Linked DNA regions of Homo sapiens: all the other regions are reported to be linked to region 1. The links are microRNA targets in miRTarBase. Many come from high-throughput screens and were not tested one by one. Region 1 holds a microRNA gene; each other region holds the end of a gene's coding sequence.
What was found. Region 1 holds the annotated microRNA hsa-miR-574-5p (UGAGUGUGUGUGUGUGAGUGUGU, at 3,239-3,261, shown strand). A microRNA usually pairs through its seed, bases 2 to 8, with sites in the 3' UTR of a target mRNA and lowers its output. Matches are read on the target gene's strand: a 7mer-m8 pairs with bases 2 to 8, a 7mer-A1 pairs with bases 2 to 7 and ends in A, and an 8mer does both.

Region 1 (5,089 bases):
CCTGGGCAACACAGCAAGACCACGACTCTACAAAAAAATTTAAAAATTTGCTGGGTGCAGTGGCACCCTGTGATCCTAGCTCCTTGTGAGGCTGAGGCAGGAGGATTGCTGGAGCCCAGGAGTCTGAGGCCGCACTGAGCCGTCATCACACCACTGCACTCCAGCCTAGGTGACAGAGTAAGACCTCATTCCTAAATAAGAAAGAAAGAAATATGGGTGGGAGGGATATACAACCACCTCAAGAAAATGGCTACCTGCAGAGATGGTGGACAATGGAAGGGATAGGGTTTCAAACATATCCGTAACATTTTTTTCTTTGCAAAGAAAATTCTAAAATAAATACTGCAAAAAATTTTGTTAAATCTAGATATCATCATAGTATTTCCTATATTTTTTACACAAATAAGTATTTGTCATATTATTCTTTACTTTTCTATATATTTTAAATACTCCAGAAAATTTTTAAATGAACTTAAAATGTTTTACATTGCAAATAAATAAAATATCTGAAATAAAATCTGGTAGTCCTGGAAGCAGCTACATGAGTAAAAGGGACAAATTTGCAGTGGGCAAAACAAAAAACAAACTTGTTGCCAGGATAGTTTGCTTTATTTTCTTTATTGGATAGGTGTGGTTTGGGTCAAAGGAGAAGAGGAACTCAGCCCTTTAAAAAGAGAACATCTGATTGGGCTGTTACGGCACAGCAGGGAAGGGAAGGCAGGTTAGCAAAGGTGCTTGCTGTCTCTGGGCAGGAGCAGAAGTCCCAGGCACAGACGTCTGTGTATATGCTACACCAAAACACACCTGTTGCAACTGGAACATAATTTGATAACACTCGCAAAGCCAGAACTGGAAGGGACTGTGCCGAGCAATGCTCTTTATTTTAGAGGTGGAAAAACTGAGTTACAGAAGCCACGTGTTAGTTAAGGTTCAAAGTCTCGCTCAATTCAAAAAGGCTATTGATCTCAATTTAAAGCAGTTTCCACCCACTCTCACATTAAGATAACTTTCTGGTTTTTCTATGAATTTAAAAATGACAGGCTGGGTGTGGTGGCTCACGCCTGTAATCCCAACACTTTGGGAGGCCGAGGTGGGCAGATCACTTGAGGTCAGGAGTTCGAGACCAGCCTTGCCACCATGGCAAAACCCTGTCTCTACTGAAAACACAAAAATTAGCCGGGTGTGGTGGCACGCACCTGTAATCCCAGCTACTCAAGAGGCTGAGGCAGAAGAATCGCTTGAACCCAGGAGATGGAGATGGTGCCACTGCACTGCAGCCTAGGCCACAGATCAAGACTCTGTCCTCCTAAAAAATAAAATAAAATAAATATTCAGTAGCTTAAAAAATTATTAATATAAAAATATTTAATAAAAATATTAAATAAGAAATATAGCCAGGCACGGTGGCTCATGCCTGTAATCCCAGCACTTTGGGAGGCCGAGGTGGGTGGATCACCTGAGGTCAGGAGTTCGAGACCAGCCTGGCCAACATGGTGAAACCCCGTCTCTACTAAAAAATACAAAAATTAGCCGGGTGTGGTGGCACGCACCTGTAATCCCAGCTACTCAAGAGGCTGAGGCAGGAGAATTGCTTGAACCCAGTAAGCAGAGGCTGCAGTGAGCTGAGATCACGCCACTGCTTTCCAGCCTGGACGACAGAGCAAGACTCCATCTCAAAAAAATGAATTAATAAATTAATTAATATATATATGGAAGAAACTGGAATATAAGGAGCAAACTAATTGTCAATAGGAGAATGATTGAATGAAATATAATTACAAACATATTGCAATATATAAGACAAGTCTTAGAAGAGTGGTTTTGGTTGATATGTATTGACCAAGAAAGATGATTATAATATATAATAAATAGGGGGAAATTTACAAAATACGTCAACATCTCGCCATTTTTATAAAAAAGCAAACAAAAAGCTGTTTATGCATACATGTATTTATATAAGCTTAGAAAAACTATGGTAGGATCCACACACTATAAAAAATGGTAGTGATATTGAAAGGGAGAGACTAGGGCTATTTTTTCTTTAACTTTGAATTTATAATTCTTCAAAAAGAAGAAGGGATGGAGTGAGAGAGGAGAAAATCTGCCTTAAACACATCGCTCAGAAAGAATCACTATTTTTAAATTGTATTTCCTCCGACTTTTATAGAAAATACAAAATTGTTTACAAAACTAGTTAATACTATAAACACTGCGCTTCCTCCGCATCTGAGTTCATATTAAGCCATATTTGAGGAAGGCCTTCATATGTGGCCTTCCCTCCATGTCAACGAATCCTCATTTTTAAGGGCTACAACATATTCGATGTCTGAAGTTACTGTAGCTTACTTCACCAATCTTACTGGGGGACATTGAGATTGTCTCCGGCTTCCCCCCGCAGAAACAACTACAACAAACATCCTTGTACATACATATTTGCCCATTTGACTGCCTACTTAGGACAAATTCACAAATGTGGAATTCCTAGGCCAAAGCTAATACATCGGAGTTTTAACCCACAGCTCCAAACTGGCCTTCTGGAAAGTGGGTTTTCGTTGTTTGTTTGGGGTTTGTTTGTTTTAAATCTATCACACTCCCACCGACAGGGCAAGGGAGTGCTGCTTAACGCAGAATCAGGAGATCAAACTTTAGCTGAATTTGAGCGACCTCTTCCCAGTGACACGGCGGGGGGTTTTCCAAGCCCTTTTAAGGAAAGGAAAGGGATCTGGCGAACCCCGAGACCCACCCGCCCTGGGCTGGAGAGGCGGCGCGCTCTGGCTTTCCGCGCTGGCACAGGGGTGGGACAAGCCAAGTTTCCAGGAGACTCGCCCAGCGCGGGCCCGGCCCTCGCAGCGTGGGGGTGGCCGGGCGTCCCCGCGGCGCTCCTCGTGGGGCGGGGCGCAGGCGGGGCGGGGCCCCCTCTCCAGCCGCCCGCCCTCCGGCCGCGTCCCCGCCGGCCCTGCAGACGTGGCGGGGCGGGACCCGCTGGGCACTCCCGCGCGTACTCGGCCGCCTGAGCGGTAAGAGCCCCGGGCACTCGGTCCCCATCCCCTTCCCCGGGGGGCGGGCGAGCGCGGGGGCGGCTGCCCGGGGGTGGTGGGAACACCATACCTTGGCGCCTCGTCCGGGACCCACGAATCCTGCCCTCTGCGTTAGTGAGAAGCAGTGGTCAGGGAGGACCCGGCTCTGGGGTGAGGGTCTGGGGCGGCGCGGCCGAGGGACCTGCGTGGGTGCGGGCGTGTGAGTGTGTGTGTGTGAGTGTGTGTCGCTCCGGGTCCACGCTCATGCACACACCCACACGCCCACACTCAGGGTCTGCCCCCTCGGCCTGCGTGAACCTCCGCGGAGCCTGCCTGGATCTCCCAAAGTATCCAGTCCTGGCACCAAGCAAGTCTGGAAAAGTGCCCCCAATGGCTCGGGGCCAAGTCAGAGGTGGGCTGCAGGGTCCCCCAGCCCGGGCACGAAGGGAGCAGGTCCCTGTAAGACAGAGGCCTCGTCCCAGGGTGCGCCTGCCCTCGGCCTTGGCACAGGGAGCTCAGGCCTTGACCTCCCCGCTCCCCTCGCCTTACTCCTCCCCCAACAGCCGACCCACGCCCTGCCTGCTCTTCCAGTCCAGCCAACACTCTAAGCAGGCACCGCCTCCACTCGCAGCCCCCGGGATGGGTCCCACTCCCTACCGCAGATCCCCAGGCCCCCTCCACCCAGTCGGCTAGCCCTCGCCTCTGCCATCCGGTGAGTATTTCCAGGCACCTCAGACCAGGCGCCTGAACGTCACTGCCTTTTCTTAAGTAGGAAGACATCTCTCTATGGGCTGTGAGAGCATTACCTATGCCCTACTGATCCCATCATTTCCCATCCTAAACATCTTGAAGGACACAGGCAGGTGGCTTCTTAAATCAGTGTGCTCTGAACTCCCTGTGACCTCAGCCAACCTGTGACAACTGAGAATGAGACAGGCTCTATCCTCAGAGCCTCTTTTTGCCCTCTCTGCAGCCTAGTGGCTCCTTCCCTACCCCACCCATAGGCCTGCGTCCCCGCCCTCCTTTCTTCCATCAAGCCTGAGCTTGGGAAAGAATCTGATAAACTTCTTACATTGTAACCTTTAAGTGAAGGAATGAGACGTTAGGGATGGATTTGAGGCACAAGTGAGACAGTGCAGAAGGAATTTGAGGGTTGGAGGGGGCTTTCTTGAATCTGAGCGATTCAGACCATAAAAGTAAACTTGTCTTTGTTTATTTGACCAGGCTTACATCAAACATGGTTTCTCTTTTATTAATATCAAACACAATGTATTTCAATTCAGTAAATATCTGAGGGACAGAAACCAACCTAGGTGCTGTTGGTCACAGTCTTGGAGGACAGAATGGCAGAAGTAAATACTCCATAAATACATGGAATAGAAATCTGTGCAAAGTGCCAAAAACATAGAAGAGGTAGCAGTTATTTCATTGGAAGCAGTGGGGCAGATTAAGGAAAAATTCAGAATGAAAGGTAACATTAGACACTGGGTGTCTAGAGGAATAGGAGTTTGCCAGGCAGCTGGAGGAAGGGCAGCACCGGGGCAGAGGAACCAGCGTAAGCAAAGGCAGGGAGATGTGAAGAGTTATGGGGAATGGAGAAAAGACTGGTGAGGCAGGAGTGGAGGATACTGAGAGTTGCAAGAGGTGGAGAGAGATTGGAGCTGGATTATGATGGGAAGTGTGAAGATATTTACACCTAATGGTTTTTGAACAGGAGAGCAAATAGGTCCAAAAATGCCTGGCAGCCTCACAGAGAATAGGCTGGAGCCTGGGTACGTAGACTTGTCAAGCTTTATACAAACTCATACAAACTGCTACAACCTGATTAAGAGCCTCTCATCCAGAGTTTTTATTCCTGGTCCTTCGCTGACTGGCACTGTTTTTGTTTTTTTTTTTTAACTGGGGGAGATGACCTCACACAGGATATCATGCTAACCAAATTTTTATGCTGCCAAGTCAGGCCATTTTTTTTAAAAAAATCCATCCACTGTCACTATTTCATAAAATGAAAGACATTTTAATACCAAGAAAAAGCACAAAGGCTAAACTTGAAAGATGAAGGCAGTCCTTTA
Region 2 (5,089 bases), not on the chromosome of region 1:
CACAGACAGAAACGATTATGTAAGAAAAAAGTTAAATTGTTCTCTACACCTTACTCTTCTAAATTACAAAGCCAAATGGGGAAAAAAAGAACTAAAAAGAAAATAAATGTAAATATCTAAAAAATAATTAATCATAAAAGACTGGGCTATGTTTTTTGTTTTTTTGTTTTTTTTTTTTAGACGGAGTCTCGCTCTGTCATCCAGGTGGGAGTGCAGTGGCACAATCTAGGGTCACTGCAACCTCCGCCTCCTGGGTTCAAGCAATTCTCCTGCCTCAGCATCCCAAGTAGCTGGGATTATAGGTGCCAGCCACCACACCCATCTAATTTCTGTATTTTTAATAGAGATGGGGTTTCTCCATGTTGGCCAGGCTGGTCTCAACCTCCTGACCTCAGGTGATCCGTCCACCTCGGCCTGCCAAAGTGCTGGGATTACAGGCGTGAGCCATCATGCCCAGCGTAGGGCTACGTATTTTTAAAACATGCTCCCCTCAAACTGCCGCCAAAAAAATCCAAAGTATAAGGAAAAATAAAAGGCTAATTTCAAACTGGGAAAAAATACTTATAATGACAAAGGTTAATATCCTTAAGTATCATATTTATAAATCCATAAGAAAGAAAAGGACCCTGGCCGGGCACGGTGGCTCACGCCTGTAATCCCAGCACTTTGGGAGGCCAAGGCGGGCGGATCACGAGGTCAGGAGATCGAGACCACAGTGAAACCCCGTCTCTACTAAAAATACAAAAAATTAGCTGGGCACAGCAGCGGGCGCCTGTAGTCCCAGCTACTCGGGAGGCTAAGGCAAGAGAATGGCATGAACCCGGGAGGAGGAGCTTGCAGTGAGCCGAGATCACGCCACTGCACTACAGCCTGGGCGACAAAGCAAGACTCCGTCTTAAAAAAAATAAAATAAAATAAAATAAAATAAAGAAAGAAAAGGACCCTACCCCGTACCTCCAAGAAAACACAAAGGTCATGAACAGGCAACTGACAAAAGAAATATAATCAGCCAGTTAAGATACACCCAAAGAGCTCAACTTCACTAATAATAGAAATGTAAGTAAAAACGGTATTATAACTATTTCTGGCTATCAAATTAGCAAAAAAAAATTTTTTAATCAGTAATACCCAGTGTTTCCAAGAGTGCAAGCATACTGGCCTTTACATACTGATGGTAAATATGAAAATTGAGCAACTTTTCTGGAATGCAATTTAGCAAAATGTAGGGATCAAAAAGCTTTTTTTTTTTTTTTTTTTTTGAGACGGAATCGCATGCTGTTGCCCAGGCTGGAGTGCAGTGGTGGAATCTCAGCTCACTGCAACCTCCACCTCCCAGGTTTTAAGAGATCCTCCTGCCTCGGCCTCCCAAGTAGGTGAGATCACACCCTGCTAATTTTTCTGTATTTTTAGTAGAGACGGGGTTTCACTATGTTGGCCAGGCTGGTCTCGAACTCCTGACCTCAAGTGATCTGCCCGCCTCGGCCTCTCAAACTGGGATTACAGGCATGAGCCACCGCACCCAGCCAAAAATCTTTTCAAAATATGCAATATTCTCAGAAATAAGAACACTGCTTCTAAGAATGTATCCAAAGCAAACAGAGATTGGCAAAAAGTGTGTAAAACTACATATCAGAGTTATTTATAATGGAGAAAATTTGGAAAATCATCTAACACCCAACAATGGGGTAAAATAAAGTATTTTAATAAAAGAACTATAAAATGGAATGAAATGCAACTATTAAAATATCACGTATCACTGTAGTACTGTTCATACTAATAAAAGATTAGAATAACTTCAATGCCCATCAGTAGGGACTGCTTAAACAGATTATGGTGCAATAGTCAATGGAATACCTAAAAAGAACGAGGTCACTCTCATGTTCTGATCCAGATTCTTCTCTCCACCTGAAGTGGTCTTCTTCCTCCAGATATCCACCTGGCTCGCTTGCTCAAATGACACTTTACTTTACCCGTGAAGGGGGTCCCTTGCCATCTTATATACATTAATAACTTGAACCCATCCCAAATGAATTCCTCTCCTCCTTGTCCAGCTGCTCAGTCTTTACCATGTGGTTCATTTCAACTGTCCACGTGCTGTCTGCCTTCCATTAGAGGAAAAAAGGTCCTTGAGGGCAGAGGCTTTGGTCCACTGCTGTGAAACCCAATACCTAAAATAATACCTGGCACTTAAGTAAGGTGCTCAACAGATACTGGACGGATGGATGAATGGACGGATGGGCGGACAGATGGATGAATGGATGGATAGATAGATATGGGACAATCTCAAAGACACAAAGGTAATAACGGTGTGTCAATTTTGCTATCATTTGTCTTTTTTTTTTTAGATAGAGTCTCACTCTGTCATCCAGGCCGGAGTGCAGTGGCGCAATCTCAGCTCACTGCAACCTCCAACTCCTGGGTTCAAGAGATTCTCCTGCCTCAGCCTCCTGAGTTGCTGGGATTACAGGCACCTACTACCATGCCCGGCTAATTTTTGTATTTTTAGTAGAGACAGGGTTTCACCATGTTAGCCAGGCTAGTCTTGAACTCCTAACCTCAAGTAATCCACCTGCCTCGGCCTCCCAAAGTGCTGGGATTACAGGCGTGAGCCACTACACCCAGCCTCTTTTGTCTTTTAAAAAAGAAAAACTTAAAAGTGTGTGTGATGTGTTAACAGATATCTGGAAGGATACACAAAACGTGGAACACTGGCTGCCTCTAGGCAGGGAGGTTGGGGATGAGTTATGGGAAAGCCATCTTTCACTTCTGGCCTTGCATTTCCCAACTACAGGCACCCGCCACCACACCCGACTAATTTTTGTATTTTTAGTACAGACGGGGTTTCACTATGTTGGCCAGGCTGGTCTCGAACTCCTAACCTCAGGTGATCTGCCCGCCTTGGCCTCCCAAAGTGATGAGATTAGAGGTGTGAGACACCATGCCTGGCCTACACTTTAGTTTTCTTTTACTTTGTTACAAGTTTAATTTTGGAAATGGAGCCAAAAAACTTTCTCTAAGGAAGCCCTACTAAAAGTACTTACCTCTCTAAAACGAGGAGGTAGAAGATGAGGCTGAAGGGAATGTTCATTTACCACTTACTATTAGAAAACCAAAAATGGCAGGAACTTCCTTTGATTTCAGTAATTTAGAGCTCAGCATTTTGTGTCTGATTCTTTCAAAGCCTTTAAAATTTCTAACTTTGTAAAAAACACATTACTTGTTTTTAAAAGTAATGCATAATCTAGTGAGGAAAACCAGGTATCTGGTGTCTCAGGAGGACAGTTAGGAATACAGAGTGTGGCTGAGCTGCACGTCAGCTGACCCATCACAGACTTAACCTCCTTCTCTATTCTTTCCCTCTATAAAGATTGGGAATGCTCAAAACATTACTTCTACAATCTTTCATACAGACTGGAGATATTGGACATTAGACACAGGCCTAGTCAATAGGTATGAGTAAATTTTTGGACAAGCTTCTGCTTCCCTAATTAAGAGCGACAGATGTGAGGAGTACTACCCTCTCCCCTCTTATTCATGTTGTGAATGTAGATATGGTATCTGCAACCATGGGGGCACCTTATAACTATGAGGCAGCAAGAGCCAACATTCAGGTGGGAAGAGGCAAGCACTCTGGGTATCTGGTGGAGTCACTCAACAGAAGAACCCTTCTTGTTACGGAAGAAAAATAAACCTCTATTTGTTTAATGTATTGTAAACTGGGTTCTGTGAACCTGCAACCAAAGGAATTCCTAACTGATATTCTTGGGAATCTATTTTAAAAAGAAACTAAAAATAACTCAAATTCTATGTAAATTTAGAAAGAAGACTGTAATAAATCAGAAATGTAAATTACAAACCAATTATCTTCCTTAATGTCTCTATTGCAAATTTTTAAAAACGACGACAAAAACTCAGAGGAAACAGAAAAAAGCAAAATCAGTCAACATCAACTCCATACAACAGATTTGAGAATGCAAACATTCAGAATTTATACATTCAATAAGGATAAACTCACACAGTAAAACTGAAGTTTGATCAATGCTGGGGCTGTTCTGGACTAATGTTCATTGTTCGATAAATTTCTTTAAGTAGTAACAGAGCAGTATCTTCAGATTCCCTATGAAAAGGAAAAGCATATTTACTTAAGAGACAATTAGAAGAAATTAACTTCTATGCACAATGGTTGAAAATGCAGGTTCTATTCTATTCAACTCTATCTAAGAAGGGCAAATGATAGCAATGTAATCTCAGTGTAATAAATAAAGCAGCGTAATCTCAGAGCTGTCCTTAAAAACTAGATGAATACTGATTAGCTCCAAAATAGCTGTGTTGCAATTCTCCTTGGTGACAGGGATACAGGAAAGAATGGCATTTCAAAGTCCCTACCACTCCCACTGTGAAAGGCATTCCCACAAAAACAGTGTGCAAGAACCAAGGGTCTTTGGTCAAAAGCAGATGACATACTGCCATCTTGTGGGTAACTAAGGGGGAAAAATAACGATTCTGAACATATAGTAATTCAAATGAATATTCATAGTACATTGTATCAGTAAAAGAATCTCACTAAAACTAAAATTGCTGCACGTGCTAGCACCAAAAGCCCACTCAAATGTTACCAAATTTAAGAACACTTACCAATAGCATAAGTGACTCTGAAGAGCGAAAAGGTATTCATTAAAACTCTCTATTGGTTTTTCTTGGAGAACGTAGTCAATTCGGCGGCCTCCATTTAACATTCCAACCTTTCCTAAGTAGTCCTCATCCTTGGAAAAATCTGGACTTTCAACAACCTTTTCTGCTAGAATTTAAACCATTTCAATATCAAAGTCAATCACTTAATCTTTATCCTTTGACTTTAGCTGACTTTCTGGGCTCAATGAGAATACTGCTTGACGCATGTAGCAACCTGAGGAGCTACCAGGCTCACTCCCCGTTCCTCCAAAGAGCCAGGGGAAGAGGGGCTGGTTACCCGAGAGAGAGGAGAAAAGAGCCAACAAGCTGAGAGAAGTTGTGAAGATAAGGGGTGAGAAAGCATTGTAGAAAGAAAGGAAACAGGATTAGAATCTGAAGAAGTCAAAAACATCACAGC
Region 3 (5,089 bases), not on the chromosome of region 1:
TCATGCTTTTCCACAAATACTTCAGTGGTTCTCAGTCTGTCATGATTTAGTGGGCTGAGAATGCTCTGTGTTGTGTTTTATGTAAAAATTCTGCCTGTCTTCCTTAGATCAGGAAGGAAGAAAACAGGCCCAAGAGGTTGGCCCCAGACGGTTTCTCAGTTCCAGTGCCCATCCTGCTACAGGCTTTCTCTGACCACCTCCTCCCCAGTTTGAAGCCATTTCTGACTTTCTTGAGCATCCCCCTTTCATGTTCCCTCACCGTATTATCAGTGTTTGCATAAGTGCCTCATCCCCTCTACTAGGCTGTGAGCTCTTTGATCCATATAGAATTGTCTCTACACTCAGGTAGACTTTATATTGAGTGTTTTTGAATGACTCAAGGAATGAATCTCTATATTCTCCCTCAGGATGTTTTCTGTAAGAGGTGCTCAGCATCTTTTGAATATAAAAAAGATCGATGGATGAATGGATGGAGAAATTAAATAAAGGATTGAGGATGTATAGACTCCAGACAGCATCACATAGGAAGAATAAACAAGCCTATTCTCTTCAGGTCATTCAGCAGATTCTGATGAGTTAACTCATAAATACAGGTTTTGGAACCAAATGGAAGTGGGGATGACTCAGGGCAACCACTCATCACTCTGCAAACCAAGGCCCATGCCCTGCTATGGTTCAGTGGTGTCATCTGGAAATATTCATGTAAATGAGCACCCCAGTTTTCTAAGAGCTGTTTTTTTCTTCCTCTCTTCTTTTTTCCATTTCCTGGATTCCCAACTTCCTAGGTAGCCCTTTAGAAATGCAAATATAGGCCTGGCGCAGTGGCTCTCGCCTATGCCTGTAATCCCAGCACTTTGGGAGGCTGAGGTGGACAGATCACTTGAGGTCAGAAATTCAAGACCAGCCTGGCCAACATGGTGAAACCCTGTTTTCACTAAAAGTAAAAAAAAAAAAAAAAAATTAGCCAGGCGTGGTGGTGGAGTACCTGTAGTCCCAGCTACTTGGGAGGCTGAGGCACAAGAATGGCTTGAACCTGGGAGGCAGAGGTGGCAGTGAGCTGGGATCATGCCACTACACTCCAGCCTGTGCGACAGAGTGAGACTGTCTCAAAAAAAGGGAAATGCAAATATAAGCTTTCATCTCCCCTTCACTAGACATTCCCTACAGGGCAAGTTCATCTCTCTGCTCCAAAATAGTCCTCCAGAATTGACTGCCAATTTGCAGACCAAAACATGCCCTCCTTGAGCTTTCACCTCCAGGGGTTGCCTTGGAACTCCCACCCTCCAGGGGCTGCCTCAGGACTTTCATTCACTAGGAGGTTATATCTAAAGTATGCCTACTTGGCCACTTTTAAAATTTATTTTTGCCCAGGAAGGCCCGACTCAACTGTCCAGTAGATAAGGCACCATGCTATCAGGCGGACCCTTGCTCACTTGCTCCCTTACCTTATAAAAGTGCCTGCTTTCTGCTCCAAAGGGGAAGCGGCACATTGAAAGGCAGGACGTTGTGTGCCCCTCCTCCAAGCTAGCTTTGGAATACATTCACTTTATTGGTATCAGACTTTACTCTTGTCCGTGGGACTTTGCATACATTGAGCAACTAACCCGCATTTCAGTTACATTCATGTCACACTTTGGTCATGATTTAGCTCTTTGGTACCAGGGGCAAGCTTTGCTTGGTCAGTAGCATAGGGTGTTGCTGTGTTTATTGGATGGATTCCATGGCCCAGACTGAGTAATGTCGGGGCAAGGAACAACAGGACAAGTGCTCTAGAAATTCTTGTCTGTGGGGCTGACATGACATGTCTCTGCTTTCCCTATTAAATGTTTCCTGGGCTGAGGCATGAGATCTCCCAGGCCCCTGAAGCCTGGAAGGGGTCAGAAAGCCAAGGCAGCAAGGCTAGAGGGCACTGCCAGGGAAAGTGACCCACATCTGTCCCCTCAAACATCAGTTCCTCTTTCCAGGGAGATGGGAGCTGTGCAAACATGGAATTCCCACACCTCACAGGTCTCTCCTGGGTGGAGACTTCAAGATGGAGAGAGGGAAGAGAGGCAGCATATGTAGAAGGGCAGGAAAGTGGCATGTGTGTCCAGTGGCAGTGAAGAAAGGGGATAACAGACATCTCCCTTTCCTATAAAATAAAAAGACAGGAACTTCACCTACCTCTGCTATTTCCTTCCCATTTCTCCTTCAGCTTGAAGAAAGGTGTGGAGTTGAGAAATGGTCCCTAACCTGCACTCGGCACTCAAGGGTTTTCTCCAGAGCAGGTGAGACCTCTTTGCCTGGCCTTTGTCTGCCCTTCATTTCATGTGAAAGAGAAATGTGTATTTGCAGAAGGAAGCCCAGGGGCTTAGGGAACATCTTCACTCCAGAGGAGCAGGGAGCGGTGGCTCCACCAGCTGTGCCTGGGTTGGTCACTGAGCCTAGACAAACTCCAGCCCACTGGGAAGCTGGTTGTGGATGCTGGCCATTGGGTGGCCCCAGTGAGCCCTTTCCAGCCAAAGATTTCACCAGGAACTCCAAGTAAGAACCCAGCCCTTCTCCCTCAGCCTCCATTGAATGATGCTCTGTGGCCAGGCAGGTACCAAAGAATAAATGTACTGTATTAACATGAAGACTAATGACAAATGCACTGCAGTAGTAAGCACGTCATAGATGCATAGAATATTCTCTATATAGTCTGAATATGGATATAAAATAAGTTATACTCATTTTGTTTTCCATCACAGTAGGAGCATAGCATACAAAGTGATTGGTTCAGTGGCCATGAAGCAAGCCAGGGGAGAGACCACAGAAGAGAATGTAGGGCATTGAGTACAGTGGGGATTTGCCAAGGACACTGCAGAGTCCCTGGGGACCCTCTGGGGAACAAGGCCCCAAACCTCTCAAGTTAGCCTTCTGAGAATAGTATGAGGTCCCACTTGACAAGAGACAGTGGCTGCATCTGAGCTGGGATGATTCAGGCAACTGGGTGGGAGGCAGAGCAGGGACAGGCACGAACAGCATCCAGCAGGCTAGCCCACTCTCCTGCTGGTGCTGTTGGATGTCTATGATGCTGGGAATATGGGGCGCAGAGCCAGAAGGCACGGTTTGCTTCTGTGACGTGACAGATGGCCAGACTGATGGGCCACCAAATGCTGGCCGGCCCTCCTCCCTTGCCAGCCTGTCCTGGGAGGCTGCAGGGGGCCTGCATACTTTGCTTGTTCTCCATAGTTTGTCATTGGGTATCAATGCTGGGATCCTGCATACATCATAGCACAGACAAGTGTGTGAGGGTCTGAGGCCCTGGCTTTGAATCCTCTCTCCATCACGTGACTTCTGTGAGTTTCAGAAGGTCGCCTAAACCCTTCTGAGGCTACTCAGCCTCCTCAACTGCAAAATGGGAAGGCTAATGCATACTTCCCTGGGGCATCAGTGAGGGCCACATAGAATAATGTATATAAAGTGCCTAACACAGCTCCTGGTACGCAGGAGGGGCTGGGTAAATGTGAGTCAAGTATGAACATCTAAACATCATAGGCCAGGTGGAAAGAACATCTAACAAAATCTATGAACTAAAACCACCTTGACTGGTTTTCAATAGACTACAGGACAATTTCCTCACTCTTATCAATTTTTTTCTCTTCTCTCTCCCGCTCTGGGATTCTTTAAAATGAAATACTGGCAGAGTTCAAAGCAAGGTTTGCCGAAGAAGACAGAGGCTTAGATTAGGAAAGAACAGAGCTCCTGGGCCAATGTCTCTAGAAGACGCTTCCTTTCTCACCTCTCCTCCCTGCAGCTGCCCGCCTGCCCTCAGATCTCCTAGCTCTTGAATGGATTTCTTATTAGGAAGCCAAAGCAGATAGGGGAAGCACAGAAAAAGAAGTGAATTGTCTACTAAATGAAAAGTCTTTTCCATTTGCTCAGAGCCCGGGTGTGGAAGCACTGGGGAATCTGGAGGTGGGTTGGCCATCTGTGCTGGCAAGTGAATTGCCTCAGGTCTGGTATCTGGGGAGTGGCCGAGGAGAGGGGAAGAGCGATAGAGACTTAGGCTTAGACTCTGGGGCCTGGGAGTGCTCTTGTCCTTCTAATCCCGAGAACTTGGAGGTGTGCCCAAACAAGTATCAGCTGCAAACATGGGCGTCATGGTCCTCTCTCACCTACAGAGCAATGTCAAGATATGCATATGTGTGTGTGCATGTTTGTGTGTGTGTGTGTGTGTGTGTGTGTGTGTGTAGTCACCGCTCCCATCTCCTCCTCTAACACTGCCCGTCTGAATGTCCCCCCACCCCATCACTCGGCAACTTTCCTCTTGGACGGGGGCAGGAGGTGGGCAGGCAGCTCGTTGGGCAGCTCGTGCCCCTCCAGCTTGACTTTGATGAGGTGGTTGGCCAGTGCAAACTCGTCGTCGTCCAGCATGCCATCCTTGTCAATGTCGGCCAGCTTCCAGATCTTGCCCAGCACACTGTTGGGCAGCTTGGAGCGCACCATCTCCTTCTTGGCATTAGCGCCTGTGATCTTGCCATCCACCGGTGACAGGGTGTAGAAGATCTCGTCGTACATGGGCTTGTCCCTGGCCACCACCCACTCAGCATCATCGATACCTTCTCCAGCCCCCTCCCCATAGCCATGCCCAAAGGGGCCGTGCAGGGTGCCCTCGAACGCTCCGCCCTTCACCATCTGGATGGGCCGCTGTGACTCCTCCTGGCGCACTAGCACCATGAGCTGGGCAATGTCATGGGCCAGCATGTCGTCCACTACCTCCAGCAGCTTGCTCTTCAGCGGCTGGAACTTGCTAAAGTCCTGGGCCTGCAGCTGGTCCTGGGAAGAGGAGGAGAGAGGATGAAGATAGGATACGATGAAAGGAGAGCCCTCCATTTATCACGTGCCTCCTATGAGCACCAGAATGTTCACAGCTGATCCCTTTCTACAATGAAAGACCTGTGACCTAGAGGCTCAGCTGATGGACATCACGTGGTAATCGAAGGTATGAGAGAGGAGGGGAATAAAGGCCCACTGGGCTGATGATGGGATTTTTCAGTAGGGGGTAGAAGGGTTGTAGGGGCTGGGGAAGAAAGGGAAATTTAACAAGTATTGGCATGATCTATTT
Region 4 (5,000 bases), not on the chromosome of region 1:
TTGTGCTCTGGGGTGCCTGAAAGTGCCAGAGCTGCTTCAGGGGCAAGAGTCCAGGCCCCAAGTCCATGCTGATGAGCCCACCCTGGGGGTCAGGAATGGCCTCAGCAGGCCCTCCCTCCCTCCCTCTCCACCCTACAAAGTGAGGAGCCTTGAGTCACCACCAGCACATTATACAACAATACAAGAACCCTGCAACAGATAAAGCCCCAGCGCCTCTTCTGGACTCAGATGCCCTAGGCTGGCTGTCTGGCTGTGCTTTCCAGACAGTGTGTATGTGGAATTGTGCTTTTTGTTTTTTAAGAATGTAAAAAGTTACAGTAAGATCGAACCACAGGGCCCGTCGCTCCTATGGTCTCTGCCTGACTGGGCTGCCGTCTGCCTCAGTTCCCCAGAAGCTTCTCCTTTGGCCATGAGGGCTCAGTCATCCCTCACCCCAGAGTCCACAGGAAGAGGGGGTCTGCTGGGAGGCCTGTCTGAAGGACGGAGGATCCTGGGTCAATTTAGCAGCTATTTTCCAGGGTTTGGCTTGGGTTTGGATGCTGGCTTCTGTGTGAAACCTGAATACATGCAAATTGTACATAAAACTCCCCCAAGGCAGAGAGGGATTTTCCAGGCCCTGGTACATCTCTAGAGAGTTAAAAATGGGAAATCTTTCTTCTTAAAGTGGCCCAGACTGAGACTTTTCCTTGGGGAAAAGGGTTAGTAGCTCTTTGTAAGGCTGGTGTGTATGTGTGTGTGTATATATATATACATATATGCATGATGCTGTGCAAATGCCCAGGGCTGTCTGGCATTTTCCACAAAATGAGAGCCTGAGATTGCCTAAGCCTTCTGATGCCTTCTCCAGGCCTGGAGGCACTGCTTCATTCAGAGGACACAAAGGCCTGACCACCTGGCTTTAGCAAGCTAGGACACCCAGGGTGGCTTCTTTACCTTTCTCCTCAGCTCTGAGAAGGCTGCTAGCCAAGACTCTGGATTCTCTGTGGCCACAGTCATATGGTGAGGGCCTCTTGGAGTTCATTCAAACTTTAAGGGAGCCCCACAGCACCGGCATGATGGGTAAGTCCAGGCCTAAGGTTAGGAAGCAAATCCTGGAGCATGAGGAAATTGTAGGCTACAGTGAGCTACCAGTGGTGTGCAAACTGGAGACCCCCAAGACAGTGAGAGAGGCCACAGCATCTGAGGGAATGGAGCTCTTTCTTGGCCTGAGGTTCAGAAGAACCTGCACCAAAGAAAGGCATCCCTATCAATGTCACTGTTCCTGAAATGATGGGAGAACCACATCCCTGCTTCAGGGAAGCAGTCCCTGTCGTCTGGGGCGCTGAGCCCTTTGGCCTGAGATGAAGGATGATGGTGTGATGTATCATGGCAGTGTGACTGAGACTGGATTGGGGGATGGGGACAGGGGAACATAGGCAAAAATACACATGTGCCACTGGATCCTGAGCTGCCATTGTACCTTGGAGGACTGGCGTTTCTCTGGGAAGTTGGGAGGTGGGAAGAGGAAGGGTCTCATTTTCCTGCCCCTTGAAACCATGCTTACCATTCCTTTAGAAGATTGCTCAAGCTGCCTCCAATTGCCTCTTTCCAAAACCAAAGCATAGGAAAACAAGTAAAAACAGCTGAGGCTGCAGCATAAGCAACTTAGGATAGAGTCTAGGAAGCACCGCCAACAGAGAAGACTGCCAAGAAACATTTTGAGTTTTTCTTCTCTGGAGGTGGGTCCTGGTTCCTCCCATGGAGACCACGATTCTGTGTAGTCCTGCACGCTGGGCGGGGGATTGCCTGGAGGTTTCTTTAGACCTGTCTAGCTCACACAGTCTTGATGCCTGGGTTTTAGGCTGCTGTACTGTTGCTGGGGCTCACTTCCTGTGGGTAGGCTGTTATTTTGCCCGCAGATCAAGTCCTCACTGTCTAGATGCCTCTATCATGGGGATCTCTTCTTCCCTCTCTGGATGGCTCTGATCCCCAAGTTATTTCCTGTTGCCTAGGTAACACCTCTAATTGGATGCCTTTTAATCGTTCCCTTTTTTAAAGGGATAAATGTGGATTTTATTTCCAGGTCCTGTCAGAGGGCCCTGCCCTAGAGAACACGTGCGCCCCTGCGTGGGCAATCCCTTCACTGTGACCGCAACCATGGGTTGGATGGGGGGCACTCACTGGGCTGGCCTGACAGTCACAGTGAATCCTGAAAGCATGGTTTTCACAGGAACCCACCTTCAGGATTTAGCAAGACTGACGTCTCTCCTGGCCAGCGCTGCTTCACTGGCTTCACCCCAGATTAGGGCCTGTGTTTAAAAACCAATCCCAACTCAAATCAGAAATTACCCAAAATAGCTGGAGAGTCACTGAGATCTCAGGTAAGCTTTCCCTTCCTGCCATGAACTAGAAGGGGAAAGAAGAGTTTGACATTCAAGTTTGACTCTAATGCTGGGTGCGTGAGCGCATGCGTGCATGTTTGTGTGTGTGTGTGTTCCACGCACATTTGCCAGGGAGAGAGATTTCACAGCATGGCTCCAGCTGGAGGCGGTGAGGCGGTGCTTTTCTAAGACTTCCTATCAGAAGCTGTGCATACTGGTGGGTCACGCCGTGCCTGTATAAACTCTGGCACCTGTCCTTGCCCTCATCATATATGAGAAAAATGGGCAGAGAGAGTGTTCGTTTACACCCCCAGACCACTATCCTTTCAATGAAGCCTGGGTATCTGGCCTTCCTCCAGGTCAGGGACCCCCTATGCTGCAGAAGGCAAGTCTGGGAGAATCTGTCCCTCAGCCCGAGAGCAAAACTGTAATCCTAACATTACTTCCATCCACCAGTTTCACCAGCTACCTCCCTCCTGCCTTCCTCTGCCTCCAATAGGCTGTGCATGGAGAAGACAAATCCTCTTGATAAACAATATTTAGAAAGGGATTCTATCTTTCCTGACCCCAAACACATCATGGCCTCTGGAGCCAAATACCCTGACATTTGCAAGATGGCTTCTTTTGGGTTCCTGGTGCTGCAGGCCCTGGTTCCCAAGGACGCAGCTGGCAGAGGTGCCTCCTTCAGAGGAGGAGGAGGAGAAGCTGGAGGGCTGCGCCCGGCAACCCCATGATCTCTTAAAGGGGGAAAAGTTGAACTGATCAACAGTAGTTAAGAAAAAAAAAATCCACACCAACAAATAAATATCTTGTCTGAGAAGACTCAGATATTCCTGGTTAATATTGAAAAGCACTGCTGTGGATGAGCTTGTGAAAGAAAGGACGGTTGGGGGATTCAAGATCTGCCGATCCGAGCCTGGAGATCAGCCAGCTAAAAGCCCAGCAGGGCTCCTGCAGCCTCACCGCTCCCCTCCTCACAGGTGCCCTGGACCGCCCACCATTAGAAGTAGCTGCCCTGTGCTCTGTGCTAAATGGACTAACTCTGAGCTGAGAAAGGCCAGCTAAGCCCCTCACCACTGCAATTTCCAAATCTGGGGGAAATGCCACAGTCCGCAAGTTGGTGCTATGTTTCATCTCATTGCATAATACTACACCATTCTCTGTGTGTAGTGGCTGTTCTATATATATACATCGGGAGGCAACATATGGCTGTCCCAACCCCCACCTGTCAAAACTGTGACTATATCACTTCTGACGACCAGAAGGAAGCTGCTAGGCTGGGCCAGGATTCTAAATGCTGAGGAGGTAATTCAGAGCCACGAAAAGTTGCACCATATGCTTTGGGGTTGCCGGCTGCTTCTGTGCATGGGGACGGGGTTTAGTGCCAGTCTGCAAAACCCTCCTCGCTGCGGTATGCCCTGGGTGTGGGCCTGGGGGGCCACGTTTTCTCTCCCTGAAGGAGAATCTGCTGGGGGCCACGGTTCTCCAAGAGGGGACTCACAAGGAACACAGGCGTCCCCAAAACCTGCCCTTGATAACATCAGGCCTGGCCAAATAGTATTTCTTTAAAAAAATTTTTTTTGTTTCATTTTATTGGATAAAGATTAAGAAAGCGCCAGCAGTGACTGAGAGAAGCAAACCACGCCCGGCGGCCCCGCGGCCTGGAGAGGGTCCCCGGCGCGGGCGGACGGGCGGTCTACCTGGAGGCGCTGGTCTCGGCCAGCCGGTTGTTCATGATGCCCAGCGCGCCCACGCCGCCCGAGAAGCCGTTCTGGCGCGTGTTGACGCACACGCTGCGCGGGTAGCCGTTGGCCGTCTCCGACAGCTGCTTCTGCAGCAGCGCCAGCGACACCTTGTTGGAGGCCGTGAGGTCGCGCATGGAGATGAGCTCGCCCGAGAGGCGGCGGCCCTCGGCGTCGCTGTCGCGGGCCGCGGGGTCGGCACCGAGCGCGGCCAGGCGGCGGCGCAGCCGGGAGCCTGGGGTGATGGCATTGCGCCGGGCCAGGGGCGCGCCAGGAGCCGGGCAGCAGCGCGCGCAGCAGCGGCAGCTCAGCTTGCGCAGCATCCAGTTGAGCACCTGCTTGATGAGGATGGAGATGACGTTGAAGAGCGAGTAAATGCAGCACACGCCGAGCAGGATGAAGAGGAAGTTGCCCAGGCGGTAGAGCCCCTGGTTCCGGTAGGCGGCGTGCTGGCTGCTCACCAGGTCCCCGAAGCCGATGGTGCTGAAGGTGACGAAGCAGAAGTAGAGCGAGTCCACGTAGTCCCAGCCCTCCACGCTGGTGTACATGGCCGAGGCGCAGCAGGACAGCAGCACGGCGAACAGGCCCAGGATGAGCAGCACGTGGTACACCGAGGGCTTCCAGCCCGCCAGGCTGTCGGCCTCCGAGAGCGCGGAGCCGCGGCGGAAGGTGGCGGGCAGCAGGCCGCTGCGGCGCAGCTGGCGCTCCCGGCAGGCGCGCATGATGAAGGCCAGCAGCGAGATGATGCGCTCCAGGAAGAGGTTGAAGAACAGGATGGTCCCAGCGCAGCCGAACAGCCCGTAGGCGATGAGGAAGGCCTTCCCGCCCACCGTCGCGGGGGTGGTCATGCCGAAACCTGTGGAGACAGGGCAGGGTCAGCGCGGTCCTGGCCGCGCAG
Region 5 (5,089 bases), not on the chromosome of region 1:
TCAATAGTCTCGCATGATAAGCTAGGTTTTATTGCCTCTATCTTACAGATAGGAAAACAAGCTCCCAGTAACCAGTGAATAGGGAAGCTGAGATCAAGTCCCAAACTGTTCAGCTCTAAAGTCAGATGGTCAGCACTTGTACTATTCCCCACAGTAGATCTTATGCACCAAGAAGCAAGAATTCTTGTAGTAATTAGAAATAACAGTAACCTCTTATGCTTCACAGGGCATCAAATCCATTCACTGTCTTAATTTTCTCCAGCATATCTATTAGCATCTTGCATACAGTATACACAAAATGTTGGCTGAATTAACAAATATTAATAAGTTTACCATACACAGTATCATCTCTCCCTATCCTCAGAAAAAAAAAAATATATAGCCTCAAGCTCCAGCTCTGGGTAAATTTCTCCATGCTTTAGCTTCCTGAGGTAAGATTTACAAAAACCTGTCTCAGAATCTTTGGGGGAATTAAGTGAGAAAAAAATATATATAAAACATATATATATATATATGGTAACACCTAGGGCAGTGCACACAAGATAAATGCCAGGATGTTATATCTACACTGGGGTAGGCTTGCAAGTCAGTGCATAAGTTAAATGCAAGAATGATGCAACACTAATTGAAATCCGTAAATGTTGGTTTTCCTTCCTAATGCTCAATCACTACTTCTTTTTACATAGCTATTCCCTTTACAGAAACTACAATGCAAACCTCTTTGCCATTTTATGTAGACAGATCTCTGTAAACCCAAGGAGATAAGGAATAAGGACCAAGGTAAAAGTAACTTTGGGTTGCCTTTTCCTACTTGTGTCACTCCCTAGAATATGAGGTTTCCATGTAATTCCAGCTCCAATACCCACCTACAGTGATATACTTTGTCTTATTTACTATCAGTAACAATAACAATAATTACTATTTAGTGAGTACCCGCTTGTTAAGAGTTTATATACACAGTTCTTAATTCCTCCATTGCAGGGTTGTTAGAATTCTATTTTACAGGTGATAAAATTAAGACTCAGTTCAAGAAACTTGTCCAATATAAGAGTCTGTAAGGCTTGGCACAGTGGCTCATGCCTGTAATCCCAGCACTTTGGGAGGCTGAGGCTGGAGGATCACTTGAGGCCAGGAGTTCAAGACCATCCTGGGCAACACAGCAAGACCCCGTCTGAAAAAAAAAAAAAAAACCAGGCATGGTGGCTCTCACCTGCAGTCCTAGCTACTCAAGAGGGCTGAGGAGAGAGGATCACTTGAGCTCAGGAGTTAGGGGTTGCAGAGAGCTGTGACAGACCCACTGCATTTCAGCCTAGGTGACAGAGCAAGACTCTCTTAAAAAAAAAAAAAAGTCTATAAATGGAAAAACTAGGATTTAAACCCAGTCTTTTAATCTCAAACCAACATGTATCACTATTCCCAAAAACCATGATTTATCTTTAGAATAATCAAAATCTGCTACTTGAGCCAGCTTCCCTGATAGGTGTTTCCAGCAGGGAGACTGACTTGTTGCTGCAATAACTATTTCTGGAATTCAAATTTTGTCTTTTGTTGTTGTTGTTGTTGTTTTAGTGAGGCGGAGGTGAACTATTCCTGCAGTTACTGCATTACCAGGCTGATGTGTGGAATGGGTGGGGGAAACTCCTATTCCATCTCCCTGCTCCACAAAATCCATTTAAAATATTGTACATGGATAGAAGACATATCAGATGTTAAACTGATAAAATTAGATGCTACATTTATTTTAGCCAAAAGGCCAAAAAGCAATTGGAATTCAACTTTTTTGCTCATTCCCTACACAGACTGTGTTTCATTCACGGCATTAGGATTCAACTTGAACATTCTTCCACATGTAGATAGTACAGTGACAGGTCAAATGCTTTTGAATTACAGCATTTGTTTCCAAAGAACTAAAATATCTGAGACTTTGTTTCTATGATAAAGTCCCAGACTTCCAGGTTCAATCCTTTTGCCTCAACATACAGATTCGTTTTTTTGAAAATCCTTTGATTTTTTTGGCTAGGAGACCAGGATTTCTATGCTAATTCTTTTTGAAACATATATCATGTAGCATAATCAAAATCATGTGTGCGTGCATGTGTGTGTGTGTGTGTGTGTGTGTGTGTGTGTGTGTTGGGGCAGGAGTGATTACGTATAAATCCAGAAATCCTGTCAGATTACATTTTGGTGCATGCTTTTTGTATTCTCTCCTCATAACTTTCCTTAAAAGTAAATCATGTCAGAAGGTGGCATTCAAGCTCCTCATTGTATTCCTACAAGTACCCAAATAACTTAGATTTATACAAATATTTTTGAACCTTTTAATATACATTACAAATATTTTAGACCAATCACATTTTGTTGTAACATATTTACAAAACAAAAAATATATTACAATAAATATGATGAAACAGTGAATCTGATCAACAACAAGCTTTGTCACAACCAGTTATTTAAAAGGAATGCAAAGACCTGTTGGTCTGCATATATTAAGAGTTTTGAGATAAATAGGGGTCCAGAATTATAATGTATCCGGAAAAGAGATGTGGGGGAAAATCTCCAAATTTAAGTAAGATTCTTTCTCATTGTAATTACATAATGTTTAATGATGTTTTAAACTGTGAACATTGATGAATTATCCAAACATGATACAAAGCTAATGTAGTTCTATCATTTCAAAATACGTGACATCCACAGAATATCCTTTTAATTGTTATCATTATATACTGTAGTTCACACAATATCTACAAATGTGAATGAGAAAGAAAAACAGGTCACAGCAACATGTCTCACATTCCAATTTTAAATAAGACAAGCACATACTGGATCAAACATTATTTTATAATACGTTAATAAATAACACCTAGTTTGTTATGGTTACCTTGAACAGTTTATGACTGTATATTTAAAAAGAGAACATTTTCTTCGAGTTTCACATTGTCAGTAAAAGGTAAAATAAATAATGAACTTTAACAAACAAACAAACAAAACAAAAGAGAGAAAGAGATCTATGTAGAACCTAAAGTATTTTTGACATGCCGCTTTTCCGGTATAGCTTGCCACAAGAAAGTTAAAACAAAAACAAAAAATGATTGTCTTTTCAAAACAACTTTTAAAAGCTTTTCACAATATTGAGCATGAACCTTTGAAGATTAGCATGAAAATCTTTTTGCCCATCTGCTTTGTGGATATATTTAATATATATGTATAATGCACATTGTATATGTGCACACAAAAGAGATCTACTAAAGTCACAGAATAGCAAACTGCTTACCCCTTAAAATGAGAACCAGCCAACACACTGATCTGAATCCAGCCAGTCTGAGATCGGGAAAGCATTCATTCTTGCTTTGCTTTCACAAATGTCCCTGTATGAATGTCGTTCCTGTGGATCCCCAACCACTTTTAAAACAAAAAAGCCCACTGTAATAATTTAATGGGTCTAGATTTGCCTTGTGGGGAGGTGGGACCTGGTTCCTCAGAGCAGATACTGACAAGCCATCTGACTGGGTCTGCAGGTGAGTGCAGCTCTCTCACTGTGATCGTGCCATTCCCTTAACTCCTATTCAGTGTTGCCTTCCATTCTCTTACCACAACTGCTCACAAACCTAGAGAACACTGAGTCCACACTAGATATTGGTCCTGATAAGTTGTGAACAGGCCAAACTACTTTACCACCTGTTTCCAACTAAGAATGTTTTCTTGGCTAAACAAAAGAAGAGCATTAAGCCTTACAGCAAAATTAGATGTTTCATTTAAACCAGGTTTAGAGTTGTTATAGTAGTAAGACTTTTTATTTAATTAATCACAGTTTTCTAAAGGGAAAGAAGGGTAGCGGCCCACCTTCCTAACCAGGAATAAAGATTTCGACATCTTCAGAGTCCCTATTTTCTTTAGCCACCATTTTCATTCATTTTTAGCTTAGTCAGAAAGTTGGTGGTAATCACTGGACTGTAGTTTAATCACTGGACTATTATCACTCCCCACATTTCAAGTTCCTTTATATTTGTTAGTTCTCTTGACCAAAAGACATTTACAGTATTATGCTAAAGGCCTTAGTAAATTTTTACTTAAAAAAAAATACCTGGTGGTTTTGTTCTTGGAGTCTGCATAAAGCCACTGCTCAAATTATATCTTTCCAAGAAAAATCTAGAAACCATTAAACCATCATATAACTCTATTATCATAACTTTTGCTCATTAATCCTATTCTCAGACAATGTGATGGGTGTTATGCCTTCATGGGTGGTGGCCTCTGTTTTCCATTTCCCCAGGTAGAATGCTGAGTAGGCTCCCCAAAGGGCAGGGTGGAATGCGGTGGTTCTGCAAGGTCATCTGACTAGAAGTTCCTCTCATGCTTTGGATCTTTTATGGTGGGAACTTTGGAGAAACCAAACATCCACATTCCTTATCAATGAGAAATTAATTCATGAGTAACTTAACGGTTTAGTACTGAAAACATGTTACTGGAGTTTTTGGTTCATCTGCGAAAACCTCAGAATTGTGACACACACTAAGCATTAGCACAGGTCTGCAGCAGAGATGGAAAAGCTCATAAATTAATATAAGGGCTTTTGGCCTTGGTTTTCAAATTCAGACCAGGCATCATTGAGCTCCATGAAAATCATCTTTGCGTATTGTTCATAGGGTTGCCCAGTAGCCTGTAGAGAAAACAAAAACACACATTAGATACCACAGACCAAAATTTCATTAATATTAAATTTTTCACTGCCAATATATGGGCTCTAAGCAATGGAAATGTTTTTCTATTTGGCCATTTCTCCTTTTCAGCCTAATCTACTATATCTGACCCAAATTACTATAACCTCCCCATAATGACCTCCCCCTAGAAATGCACAAGGGTAGTAGTAATCCATCAAGAAGTAGACAACAGAGAGCTTATCAGGCAGCACAAGACGTATCTCTGTTCTCCAGACGTATCTGCCAAATGACAAAGGTTCATGACAGCCCATCTCTATTGACTGTTTTTAACTCCCATTTTCCCATTTCTAAAAAGTTCTTTGAGAGTCATAATGGGGAATACAGTTTGTGGATTTTTCTGGGCTCTTGTTTCTCCTTCTCTTTTGATTCAT
Region 6 (5,089 bases), not on the chromosome of region 1:
GCCTCCCAGCATGTGTTACTTTATTATGGCAACCCTAGCAAACTGGTACAGTCCCCAGTGTTCTGCACATCTTTGTGACTAATTCCCCAACTGTACCCCTCTTGCTAGAGGAAGTATCTCACACTGCTGTGTTTCTCTTGGTGCTGTCTCTCGACTGCTTCTTCCTTACACCCACCATCCCCATGAGGGTAGGGATTTGCATCTGCTTTGTTCATGAATCTCTCCTCCGCACAGGCGGGCCCCACGATCAGACGATGCTCTTAGTGGCAGCATGATGGCATTCAGGAGGATTAACATGCACAGATGTTTGGGACTGGAGAAGTGAGGTTCAGCAAGTAGGAAGAAGAGAGGGCACCATTTAAACAGCAGATCCACCATGCGTCTTTATTCACATAGCACCAAGTAACACAGTAGCACAACATATGGAAAGAAAGTAACAGGCAACACAAAGAGAAATCCACCAGAGTCCAGAGCATACTCGTGCCAGCGGATTCCAAGACCCATCTGTGACAAACTGGTGGGCAGAACTATGTGCAGTCACTGTAGTGAGTACAGGAACTTCATAGCCCTCCTCACACCCAAGATGGCCCTATGCAAGTCAAGATGCCGTGGTGGGTAGCCCGGATGACTGTGGGATGACATGGGAAACTGGGAAAGAATGTATTGCATGCCTCAGAAGAATGGACTGTCTGACTTGGGAGCCTACCTTAGCAAGTTTTCCCTTTACTGATCATTTTCTCTTCATTTTCAGATTGTGGCCAAGAAGTACAGAGATTTTGAATTTCCTTCTGAAATGACTGGCATCTGGAGATACTTGAATAATGCTTATGCTAGAGATGAGTTCACAAATACGTGTCCAGCTGATCAAGAGATTGAACACGCATATTCAGATGTTGCAAAAAGAATGAAATGAAGCTGGGCTGTTTTCTGTCTTATTTCTCAGTTGAGTGAGCAAGGATACGAAAACAGTGTGTTTGAAAACAAATTAGGTTTGGGTTCAATTCCTTCAATTTTTAAAAAACTGGTCTCTGAGAGTTTTTTAAATCATTGAGAGCCTGTTTTTCTTCTCTAAAACATTAGTTTAATTTTCTTCAAAATGAAAATACTGCTTTGTAATTACAAAATGAGACACACCTATCTTGATATTTTAAAGCAATATCAGAGGGTGTAAAGAAGGACATTTTAACAATCGCCTTCAATTTTACTCCACTTAATTACCGAAAACTTACTGGAGAACATGTTCCAAATCTTCAGTATCTTGTTCTCTCTCTCTCTCTCTCTCTCTCTCTCTATCACACACACACACACACACACACACACACACACACACAATTTCATTCATATATGGTATTGCATTATTTTATTTTAAAGCACTGGTGAGGGGACCTCTTGGTGATTCCTGGATGATCATACACAGAGGACTTACACCATACAAAAATATTGGGCACCGCAGTGCCAGAGAAGATGCTTGAGGTTAGATTTTAAGGAGTGGGGAATTGTGAAGCCCACAGATGCGCACGCAATGACCAGCAGGAACCGGAAGCCCTGGGTCACCCCCACTCTGCCTCATTTCTGCCTCCAGGATGCCACTGCCTCTGCTTCCAGGAAAGGCAAGGGGGAGGGTGCTTATCCGTGTCTCTGGTTCCAGCTTCCTGTCTTTGCTCCCTCCCCTCTCTTAGAGACTGTGCCTTCAGCAGGACTCTTAATATCTGCTGCAACTTGGAGAACCTCCCTGCCCTGAAATGTGAACCAAGCACACTTTGGTTCCTTCTCCGGGCGGCTCTCTCTGAGACCCAAGGCTGCAGTCCCTCAGTGCTGGTGGTATCGTGTGGGGATAGCAATACTTCTCTGCCCTTCATTGTCTCATCTAGACATCAAGCAGGGAAAATCCAGGGAGATTAAATTCATGGTGACAAGTCCTGGGCAGTTCTGGTAAACGGTCCAGTTAGGGAGGGAGTAGAAACTATTGACTCAAAAGAGTTTCTGGCTGATCTGTGGCTTTGCCTCCACCATCCCTAACCAACCTCTCATCACAGCTTTGTGTGTGGGCTGAGTGCTGGCCTTAACCCTAGGCGTGGAAGAGAAAATGTGAGGTTGTTTAGATACTCATCAGGACCTCACAGGAGCTGAGACTTATCAGCCAGAATGTGTTCTTCGGACAGTCGTACACATCTTACAGAAAACCCTCCTTGTAGAGTTGGTTGTGGTATGTGTTTGATGCTATAAAGCTCATTTTTAATGTGTACACCTGCTCTAGGGACGATTCGTTTGAAAGAGAGTAAGATGCATTAACAGAAACTATCCTGGGATTAGGTGAAAAATGTCTAGCAAAAGAAACAAAGTCTTTAATAGAGTGGCCTCTTTCGCTCTTCGATTATGACTGCTGCAGTTTTACCCCAGCAGTCAGCTGTCTTTGTCAACCATACGTTTTTGGAGATTGGGTCTAGCACATGTCACCCTTGTCCACGTTGTTTCACATCTGGTTAGGGGGCAGATTTTAAAATGTAGTTTTGTAATGTTACATTTAAGCATGATAAATGATTAGACTACCAGATGTTACTAGTGCTAACTTTGTATTCTTAGACATTAAAATGATTGACATAAACTCTTTGTGCCTTGAAAATGAAACAAATTATAAAAATGTTTAAATGGAACCAATTTCTTTTGGGTTTTATTTTTTATTTTTTATTATTTTTTGCATTCCCCATTCTCCATTTAGGTTTCAAGAAATAAAATGAATGGTATGGGCTTCTTTTAAAATGGTGAGGACAGGCCTGGCATACCGGCATAGTGGCTCATGTCTGTAATCCCAGCACTTTGGGAGGCCGAGACAGGCAGATCACCTGAGGTCAGGAGTTCAAGACCAGCCTGGCCAACCTGGTGAAACCCCATCTCTACTAAAAATACAAAAATTAGCTAGGCATGGTGGTGGGCACCTGTAGTCCTAGCTACTAGGGAGGCTGAGGTGGGAGGATACCTCGAGCCTGGGAGGTGGAGGTTGCAGTGACCTGAGATCACACCACTGCACTCTAGCCTGGGCAACAGAGTGAGACCCTGTCTCAAAATGAAATGAAATGAAATGAAATGAAATGAAATGAAATGAAATGAAATGAAAAACAAAATAAAATAAAATAAAATAAAATAAAATAAAATAAAATAAAATAAAATAAAATAATGGTGAGAGCAAGTTTGAACCTGAGATTATGGGCATTTGAATTAGAGACAATCCATACTTCAGTTGTGAATCACAAAGACATTTTAAAGGAACCTTAAAGAGGCCTCCAAAGACACCCATGAACAGTCCTTGTCCAGGTGACTGGCATCGACACCCTGCTGGGTGTTCTTGTTCTACTTTTACGTGGAGTTGTAGGAAAGGAGCTGGTTCTGGGTGGTCTTCCCCAGCCCTGTCCCAACTCTGCCTTCAGCTCCGCCCCCAGCCCACACCTCTTGATTCTCCTAAAAACCTACATGTGTGTAAGGAGGTAAGAAATATTCCAGAGCTGTTCTGCTGGACCAAAATCTTCATTACAGTGTGTTTTAAAAAACAAAATGCATTTGTTCTTCAAGAGATACCATACAAAATGTAAACATGGACGAATAATGAACAAATTCTTCTTTTCAGGCTGTGTGGAAGTTTTTCTGGACGGAGAGGATTCCATTCTCAATTCTAGTTGCCCGAGAGGCTTGAAAATTAGTTCATAAAAACCCAAACTTTACCTTTTTTTTTATTTAATTGAGATGGAGTCTCGCTTTGTCGCCCAAGCTGGAGTGCAGTAGCTCGATCTTGGCTCACTGCAACCTCTGCCTCCCAGGTTCAAGCGATTTTCCTGCCTCAGCCTCCCAAGTAGCTGGGATTACAGGGCACCACATCAGGCTAATTTTTTTGTTTTTAGTAGAGATGGGGTTTCACCGTGCTGCCAAGGCTGGTCTCAAACTCCTGAGCTCAGGCGATCCACTTGCCTCGCCTCCCAAAGTGCTGGGATTACAGGTGTGAGCCACCACGCCCGGCCTCCAAACTTTCCTTAAGAACACAGAATGTCCTAAAGCAGGCTGGAAGGGAACATGAGAGCATCACAAGGTTCTACTTTGTGGATACTGCAGCATACGGAAATGCAATGACAGAATCCGCCCAGAAGAGGACTTCCAGAGACCAGAGGTCTCAATCATTTCCATTCTATAAGTCTATCTCTAAGAATTGATTATATGTTCAAGCCCTTCACCCCCAAGATAGGCGGACAGACAGACACACACACACACTAGACACACATACGTGTATACACCAATTTGTGACACCATTGTCACACACTCTCACATACTCATAAGCACACTCCCACAGACAGACATTCATGCACACCCTCCACCCCCACCCCGCATGCAGGATGAACTCCTTCCCCTCTCACCCTCCCCCAGTCGTAAGCAGTAACTCACTCTTAGCACAACCCACCCTGCCCTGAAGTTCCCCCTTCCAGTGGTTCATAATTAGGCTTTGGAAAATTTTAGATTAATGGCTTTTTTTTTTACATTTTAATTTTTTTTGAGACTGGGTCTCACTCTGTCGCCCAGACTGGAGTGCAGTGGCGTGATTTCGGCTCACTGCATCTCTGCACCCCATCCCCAGTACCCACCACCACAGGCTCAAGCAATCCTCCCACCTCAGACTCCTGAGTAGCTGGGACCACAGACACACACCACCACGCCTAGCTATTTTTTTTTTTTTTTTTGCATTTTTAGTAGAGACAGGGTCTCACCATGTTGCCCAGGCTGGTCTCAAACTCCTGAGCTCAAGCAATCCATGCGCTGTGGCCTCCCAAAGTGCTGGGATTACAGGCATGAGCCACCATGTCCAGCAGGCATTAAAAAAATTTTTTTTTTACAAGAAAATCTCAACCCTTCTTTTATTTTACAGTTAAGAGAACCAAGATGTCCTTCATTCTAAGCACACATAATTAACAAAGCCCTACATACATGAAATGGATGCATTGGGGGATGCTATTCACATGACAAAATGACTTCTCTTTCCATATATGGGTGTAAGTCTCAATTATCCTGTGGCCAATTTCCCTTCACACATTGGTATTTTGGTTTAATA

Region 2: miRTarBase lists SEC23IP as a target of hsa-miR-574-5p. The part of its 3' UTR that is shown has no 7-base or 8-base seed match.
Region 3: miRTarBase lists EHD3 as a target of hsa-miR-574-5p. The part of its 3' UTR that is shown has no 7-base or 8-base seed match.
Region 4: the mRNA of KCNK12 is a reported target of hsa-miR-574-5p. The part of its 3' UTR that is shown has no 7-base or 8-base seed match.
Region 5: miRTarBase lists DNAJC6 as a target of hsa-miR-574-5p. The part of its 3' UTR that is shown has no 7-base or 8-base seed match.
Region 6: miRTarBase lists CLIC6 as a target of hsa-miR-574-5p. The part of its 3' UTR that is shown has no 7-base or 8-base seed match.

Annotation. Positions count from the first base shown.
Region 1 is chr4:38,864,818-38,869,906 of GRCh38, forward strand. It overlaps MIR574 (microRNA 574), which reads left to right and starts at 3,215; the gene lies at 3,215-3,310. FAM114A1 (family with sequence similarity 114 member A1) reads left to right here and starts at 2,989. Exons shown (of 15, transcript NM_138389.4): 1 at 2,989-3,017; 2 at 3,581-3,729. It also overlaps a transcript of TLR6 not described here. RefSeq lists silencers at 2,753-3,232, 3,283-3,332 and an enhancer at 3,540-4,123.
Region 2 is chr10:119,932,714-119,937,802 of GRCh38, reverse strand. SEC23IP (SEC23 interacting protein) reads right to left here. Exons shown (of 19, transcript NM_007190.4): 17 at 4,636-4,798; 18 at 4,016-4,117. The coding sequence ends at 4,036. Among named protein-coding and RNA genes, the nearest start is that of MIR4682, 23 kb to the left of the region's middle. RefSeq lists an enhancer at 3,567-3,736.
Region 3 is chr2:31,265,888-31,270,976 of GRCh38, reverse strand. EHD3 (EH domain containing 3) reads right to left here. Exons shown (of 6, transcript NM_014600.3): 6 at 1,526-4,800. The coding sequence ends at 4,273. It overlaps LOC124905983 (a long non-coding RNA gene), which reads left to right and starts at 5,037. Exons shown (of 4, transcript XR_007086270.1): 1 at 5,037-5,089.
Region 4 is chr2:47,516,851-47,521,850 of GRCh38, forward strand. It overlaps KCNK12 (potassium two pore domain channel subfamily K member 12), which reads right to left. Exons shown (of 2, transcript NM_022055.2): 2 at 1-4,958. The coding sequence ends at 4,057. It also overlaps a transcript of MSH2 not described here. Among named protein-coding and RNA genes, the nearest start is that of MSH2-OT1, 8.2 kb to the right of the region's middle. RefSeq lists a silencer at 4,089-4,358.
Region 5 is chr1:65,412,492-65,417,580 of GRCh38, reverse strand. DNAJC6 (DnaJ heat shock protein family (Hsp40) member C6) reads right to left here. Exons shown (of 19, transcript NM_001256864.2): 19 at 1,710-4,657. The coding sequence ends at 4,556. It also overlaps the pseudogene RNU2-15P. Among named protein-coding and RNA genes, the nearest start is that of LEPR, 5.6 kb to the left of the region's middle. RefSeq lists an enhancer at 4,741-5,035.
Region 6 is chr21:34,715,570-34,720,658 of GRCh38, forward strand. It overlaps CLIC6 (chloride intracellular channel 6), which reads left to right. Exons shown (of 6, transcript NM_053277.3): 6 at 752-2,654. The coding sequence ends at 913. Among named protein-coding and RNA genes, the nearest start is that of LINC00160, 19 kb to the right of the region's middle.